Homo sapiens: one gene and its partner. The protein of the gene in region 2 interacts with the protein of the main gene of each other region in a pairwise test. Each region holds a gene or a part of one and is shown on either strand. Other genes may lie near its edges.

The links.
Region 1: the proteins of ATOH8 (region 2) and CYP3A5 interact in a two-hybrid assay, tested with the Homo sapiens proteins (one large-scale study listed by BioGRID and IntAct).

What each region holds. Positions count from the first base shown.
Region 1 is NC_000007.14:99,652,427-99,656,252, reverse strand, and holds part of CYP3A5 (cytochrome P450 3A5), read left to right. Parts: intron 1-3,473; coding exon 3,474-3,700; intron 3,701-3,826. UniProt on the Homo sapiens protein: A cytochrome P450 monooxygenase involved in the metabolism of steroid hormones and vitamins.
Region 2 is NC_000002.12:85,788,159-85,791,931, reverse strand, and holds the end of ATOH8 (transcription factor ATOH8), read right to left. Parts: 3' UTR 549-3,773; downstream 1-548. UniProt on the Homo sapiens protein: Transcription factor that binds a palindromic (canonical) core consensus DNA sequence 5'-CANNTG- 3' known as an E-box element, possibly as a heterodimer with other bHLH proteins.

The DNA of each region.
Region 1 (3,826 bases), on a different chromosome or scaffold from region 2:
AACCTATCTCAAAATAATAAGAGCAAATTTATGACAAACCCACAGCCAATATCATACTGAATGGACAAAAACTGGAATCATTCCCTTTGAAAACTGGCACAAGACAGGGATGCCCTCTCTCACCACTCCTATTCAACATAGTGTTGGAAGTTCTGGCCAGGGCAATCAGGCAAGAGAAAGAAATAAAGGGTATTCAATTAGGAAAAGAGGAAGTCAAATTGTCCCTGTTTGCAGATGACATGATTGTATATCTAGAAAACCCCATCGTCTCAGCCCAAAATCTCCTTAAGCTGATAAACAACTTCAGCAAAGTATCAGGATACAAAATCAATGTGCAAAAATCACAAATATTCTTATACACCAATAACAGACAAACAGAGAGCCAAATCATGAGTGAACTCCCATTCACAATTGCTTCAAAGACAATAAAATACCTAGGAATTCAACTTACAAGGGATGTGAAGGACCTCTTCAAGGAGAATTACAAACCACTGCTCAATGAAATAAAAGAAGATACAAACAAATGGAACAACATTCCATGCTCATGGGTAGGAAGAATCAATATCATGAAAATGGCCATACTGCCCAAGGTAATTTATAGATTCAGTGCCATCGCCATCAAGCTACCAATGACTTTCTTCACAGAACTGGAAAAAACTACTTTAAAGTTCATATGGAACCAAAAAAGAGCCCGCATTGCCAAGTCAATCCTAAGCCAAAAGAACAAAGCCGGAGGCATCATGCTACCTGACTTCAAACTATACTACAAGGCTACAGTAACCAAAACAGCATGGTACTGGTACCAAAACAGAGATATTGATCAATGGAGCAGAACAGAGCCCTGAGAAAGAATGCCACATATCTACAACCATCTGATCTTTGACAAACCTGACAAAAACAAGCAGTGGGGAAAGGATTCCCTATTTAATAAATGGTGCTGGGAAAACTGGCTAGCCATATATAGAAAGCTGAAACTGGATCCCTTCCTTACACCTTATACAAAAATTAATTCAAGATGGATTAAAGACTTACATGTTAGACCTAAAACCATAAAAACCCTAGAAGAAAACCTAGGCAATATCATTCAATACAGAGGCATGGGCAAGGACTTCATGTCTAAAACACCAAAAGCAATGGCAACAAAAGCCAAAATTGACAAATGGGATCTAATGAAACTAAAGAGCTTCTGCACAGCAAAAGAAACTACCATCAGAGTGAACAGGCAACCGACAGAATGGGAGAAAATTTTTGCAACCTACTCATCTGACAAAGGGCTAATATCCAGAATCTACAATGATCTCAAACAAATTTACAAGAAAAAAACACAACCCCATCAACAAGTGGGGGAAGGATATGAACAGACACTTCTCAAAAGACATTTATGCAGCCAATAGACACATGAAAAAATGTTCATCATCACTGGCCATCAAAGAAATGCAAATCAAAACCACAATGAGATACCATCTCACGCCAGTTAGAATGGCGATCATTAAAAAGTCAGGAAACAACAGGTGCTGGAGAGGATGTGGAGAAAACAGGAACACTTTTACACTGTTGGTGGGACTGTAAACTAGTTCAACCATTGTGGAAGTCAGTGTGGTGATTCCTCAGGGATCTAGAACTAGAAATACCATTTGACCCAGCCATCCCATTACTGGGTATATACCCAAAGGATTATAAATCATCCTGCTATAAACACACATGCACACTTATGTTTATTGCAGCACTATTCACAATAGCAAAGACTTGGAACCAACCCAAATGTCCAATAATGATAGACTGGATTAAGAAAATGTGGCACATATACACCATGGAATGCTATGCAGCCATAAAAAATGATGAGTTCATGTCCTTTGTAGAGACATGGATGAAGCTGGAAACCATCATTCTCAGCAAACTATGGCAAGGACAAAAAACCAAACACTGTATGTTCTCACTCGTAGGTGGGAATTGAACAATGAGAACACATGGACACAGGAAGGGGAATATCACACACTGGGGCCTGTTTTGGGGTGGGAGGAGTGGGGAGGGATAGCATTAGGAGATATACCGAATGTTAAATGACGAGTTAATGGGTGCAGCACACCAACATGGCATAGGTATACATATGTAACAAACCTGCACGTTGTGTACATGTACCCTAAAACTTAAAGTATAAAAAAAAAAATTCAAAAACCTCAGTGGCATCTAATGAGAAGCATTTATTGCTCACAAGACTGGATAGTGAGTTCTGCTGATACTGACTGGACTCACTCTGGTCTGGCTATGGTCTGAGGTAGCCTGGCCCTGGGGGCGCGATGGAGGCTGACTCAGCTCTCCCCACACCTGTCTCATGTTCCAGTCAGGTAGCCACTGGCCAAGAAGCCAAGCTAGGAACCAGGGTATCTGACTCCTGAGCTAAACTCTAACCCTCTACAATACTGCCTCCCAAATATAACACCAAGTGCTAGGTACATATCATCCACAGTTTTCAGACTTCTGCCCAAACTGGGATTCTTTTTAGTGTGAAGAGACCTGGCCTGTGGGGCTGACCCTGGTGTGGCTGTGAGGCAGACACAAAGGGACATTTACATCCAGTCCTGAAGATTACAGTCCAGCCCTGAAGCAACAACTAGGAAACTATTCCAAAAGGAGGGGATGGGGCTGAGTGTGGGGTTCTATTCTCTTCATAACTTTAACTAGAACTCAAATTGTGTACCTTGGTAGCATCCAATCATAAATTTATTTTGTCGTATTTGTGATAGAAAGGAACAAGTTTATCCACAAATTTATTTATTTATTTATTTATTTATTTATTTATTTGAGACAGGGTCTGACTCTACGACCCAAGCTGGAGGGCAGTGGTGCAATCTCAGCTCACTGCAAACTCTGCCTCCCAGGCTCAAGCCATCCTCCCGCCTCTGTCTCCTGAGTAGCTGGAACTACAGGCACACGCCACCACACCCAGCTAGTTTTTGTATTTTTTGTAGAGATGGGTTTTCACCATGTTTCCCAAGCTGGTCTCAAACTCCTCAAAAGAGTTACCAAGCAGGACTCTGCAACCAATAATCCTTGTGTGAAGAGGATATTTGCTCTTTTCCCTGTTTTTCTTTCTTGGTACAGATGTGTGACCTCTTTTTGAAAGGTGATAGTGACTTTGGTGTATTTTATTTGGTGGTAATGGTCATAGCCCCATTAATCACATTTCTTCCCATGAGAAAGAAAAACCACTACATGGTCATGCTAAGGATTTCAGTCCCTGGGGTGAGGATGGTCTTGAATATCTCCTACATTCATAACTCCTCCACACATCTCAGTAGGTCACTGAGCACATCAATGGACATGCCAGTTATTAAAATACTTCACGAATACTATGATCATTTACCAGTATGAGTTATTCTCTGGAGCTTCTAATACTTCAATAGTACTGCATGGACTCAGTTGAGAGTTAATTCAAAATCTCAGATTATCCAATTCTGTTTCTTTCCTTCCAGGCACCACCTACCTATGATGCCGTGGTACAGATGGAGTACCTTGACATGGTGGTGAATGAAACACTCAGATTATTCCCAGTTGCTATTAGACTTGAGAGGACTTGCAAGAAAGATGTTGAAATCAATGGGGTATTCATTCCCAAAGGGTCAATGGTGGTGATTCCAACTTATGCTCTTCACCATGACCCAAAGTACTGGACAGAGCCTGAGGAGTTCCGCCCTGAAAGGTACAAGTCTCCAGGGAAATGGAGCTCACCCTGACCCAGGCTGGTTCAAGCATATTCTGCCTCTCTTAATCTACATGACAATCGTGTGGTTGTACAATCATTTGCTTGTAAGTCTTTTTATCACAA
Region 2 (3,773 bases):
AGGCAGCCACATGGCCCGTGAGCAACAGTGAAGTTGAAGCTCCTGACATCACCTCAAACACGCCATGCTGGGGTGGCCCGAGGAGGCTGGCCCACTCCAGGGAGGCCACGGGACCAGGGCGGCAGAGGGAGCTCATCTCTCCGATCCATTAGTAGTAACTGCTTGGAGCATTGTCTGGAGCGGAATTCAGGCAGTGTAGGAGCCCCTGGAGAAAAAGAGCCACTGTTGATTAGTGATGTCCGAGGCAGGGCTGTAAGGAGGCTTGGCGGCATTCATTCACTCATCTACACATTCAGTAACTGTTCATTCAGTGCCTGTGTGCCAGCACGTGTGCTGTGATGCTGTCCTCTTCGCTCAGTTCTCAAAGACTCGGCCACATAAAGAGCAAAAAGGTCCAAGGCCAGGCTTCTCTCGGCTCTAAGCCCCTCTCCCTTCAAGCCTCTCCGAAGCCATATAAAAGATCACCTGGCCTGGGTCCTGTTTTCCCCAGGTCTTGAACAAATTAGATGCTTGGGAGTTATTTGTGGAAGGAAGAAAACAAAAATGAGTGAATTACCACATTTTCCATGTTTTATTCATTCATTCAGCAAAGAAACCAATATATACACTTTGCAAGAAAGCCGTTTCGAGGATCAGGGGTTGAATTAGATCCAAACTTTGATCTCCAGGAATTCATAGTACCATCTGAGATTAGACACGTACCCACAGTTCTGGAAAACACTGTCATTGTTTGTCTATCAAGTTCCTCAGGATGCCTGGCTTCAGGGAGGCAGGCATAGTTTGTCTGGGGTCCGGGTCACCAGAAGGGAGACATGTGGGAGGGCAAAACCTGGGGGCAAAGGGAGAAGCCAGCTGCTCCTCACAAAGCAGGGACCCTGTGCCCCGCTGTCTTCCTGGAACCAGGAAACAGAAAGCAGCTGTGAAGGTGGCAGGGCAGCAAGAGAGCAAGACGAGAACAACGGTACAGATCCACTCAAAGGGTTTCCTTGGAGATGTCTGAGTCTTGCTGTTTGTTGCCTGGGATGCTGGCAATGACCACTTCGTGGCTCAGGAAGCAGCATAGGAGGGAGGCAAGTGTAGCCCCAACTCCAGTCCCCTCGCCGGCTTCCCACGGCTGACCACAGCGCGGCCCCTGTCTTATCCTAATTAGCTGCACCTATGCCTCCGTCCAGGCTCACCGGCAAGCTCTTGAGCACAGAGGAGCTCTGTACCTGCAGCTCCCAACACAGTCCCTGCACATGGCAATGCTACCCAGTTCCCAGCCCCTGGGACCTGCCTACTCATGCCTCCACTAGCTGTGAGAAAGGGGAACTTGGTGGAGGTGGAGAAATCCAGAAAAAAAGAGAACAGCACAGAGCCTTGAAGGATGTGGCCATGGAGACAGGAAGGAGCATAGTGTGGGGGGATGAACACTTGCTCAAAACCTCACCTCCAGAATTTAACCCTCTCTTCTGGGATAGTCTCAGGCCAGACCCAGGAAGCAGCACAGTCTGTGGGCAGTCTTTGGAGAGTCTTGCAAAGCTTGGCCTGTGAGCTGAGATCTCCAACTCCCAGAGCCATTCCTTCTGGTTTTGTTCTGCAGAGAGCAGGAGGCTGGCACACACACACATGAAGATGGGTGTGCACACGTGGGGCTTCATGCAGACATACCCAGGAAGATCTTGCGGGTCCCTGGAGAGGGCCCCCTCATCCCTTTATGGCCTGTGCCTGGTGACCCAGAGCAGACAAGACAAGGAGAGTGTGCTACAAACATCCACAGGTGACTCTGTGACCACAAACCCAAGGCTGGACTGCAAAGTGCTTTCACAGGGCCCCATGAGGGCAGCTCCTCGTCATTTATATTTTGCTGAGGGTCTCCTTGAATGGCTGCTTGCATAAAAGTGTTTAGAAGACTGCCGTTGGAATCTGAATCTATCTGAAATGTAATTCCATTTTCTGGAAATGTACACGAGTGTGTGTGTGGGTATGCATGTGCCCATGAGAGAGAGTATGCATGTGTGTGCATACGAACACAAGTTGCTGTGCTGGAGAGGAAGCTGGGAAAGGAGAGGAGAGCATGCACTTTTAGTCATCCACATACATACATATGTGTGCACACACACACATCCACCCAGAGCCTGTCTCCCAAATCGATGGCTCAAAGTCACTTTCTTATCGTAGACCAGACCCCACTTAGACCAGCGGCTTCAACCTTGCCTGCACATTAAGATCACTTGAGGAGCTTGTAAAAATCCCAATGACCAGGCAACACCCTAGACCAATACATCAGAATTTCTGGAGATGAAATTGGGCATCAATACTTCATATCAATATTTAATATTTAATAATCTCCTTGGGTGATTCCAATTTCCTGCCAGCGCTGAGTGCTCCTCTGCATAGAAAGCCCTTTTCCTACTCCCCTGCTCAGAAAGCTTTTACTCACCATTTAAGACGCAAGTCCCATGGCTACTTTCCAGGGAAATCCTTCCTGAGAACCTCCCCAAGAGTTAGTTCTTCCTTTCCTGAAGCTCCCGACAACACCTTAGTCATCTGCTATAATCATAATTATTTGCTTGTCTACCTGTCTGTCCCACCCTCCGTACAGAACCCAGAGCTCCGTGATGCCATGCATGACACAAGATCCATCTCTTCATTCCCACTGCCTATCTTAGTGTCTGACAGGCAGCTGGTCATCAATGATGCTTCAGAATGAAAGGGAAACATGTAATGAAGTATGTATGCAGGAGGGGGATGGGAGGTGGAGGATGGGCTCTTTCTGGGTGGTAAGGCCATGGGTTTGCTCCCTTGGCAGCAGAATGGGGTACACTCCCTTTGGTAATAGAAATGGTCTTCTATGTCAACAGTTTGATGCTGGTCAGTCCACATGTCCTGCTGCCTTAGGAAGTGCCATCAGGGTTACTCAGAGGCTCCGAGGGACAACAGAGCAGTGCTGTTATCTGTGCCAGCTTCACAGGGTGGCTGAACCTTCCTAACAGACCCTCCTGGCCCCATTCCATGCCCACTCTGTCCAGTCTGCTTCCAGAGCACCTTTGCTCTGAGGAGTGCTCAGGGCCACCTGGGTCCCCTGTTTCTGTGCCAGCCTAGGGATCCAAGACAGCATGGACACTGTGGTCCTTGGTAAAGGGCCAGCCTGAGAAACGCTACTGCAAGGGGGGCTCCCTGCAGCCAGCCCCAGCCCAGCCCAGGAGTCTGAGCAGCAGAGACGAGAAAGTGACACTGGTGAAACCAAGGGACAAACTGTGTCCTGTATGGCTGCAGCCTCCGGTCCCCTCCTATCCCCCTTTCCTTGGCCAGCCCTGTCCCTTCTGCCTTGACAGTGCTCTCCTATTTTTTATCTTATCACCCCTTCCCCCAGTCCCAATGGGCCTTTATTGTCCCTACCTTAGGCCCGCTGAGGTGAAGCAATGTGACAAGGCCACACAAGAGACTTTGGGCTGGGACTGGTGATGGGGCTGGAAAAGGTTTGAGAGCACAGGATTTGAAGTGAGCCCATCCTGATTCGATGACTGGCTCTGTCACCGACTGACCCTGTCTACTTGAGGCCTCAGTTACCCCATCTGTGAAACGGGGTTAATAATAGGGGCCCCTATCTCATAAATCCATGGTACAGATTGAGTGCAGTGCGGACAGAGAGGGCTCCTCATGTGTTCCTGACCAGGCCTCCTGGTCACTAGTCCAGGCTGAGACTACTGTGGGAACCGCCCTCCACCCCCTTCCACACACAGACACACACACTCTCACTCGGACAGCGCCTGATCCTGAAGGGCTCTCAA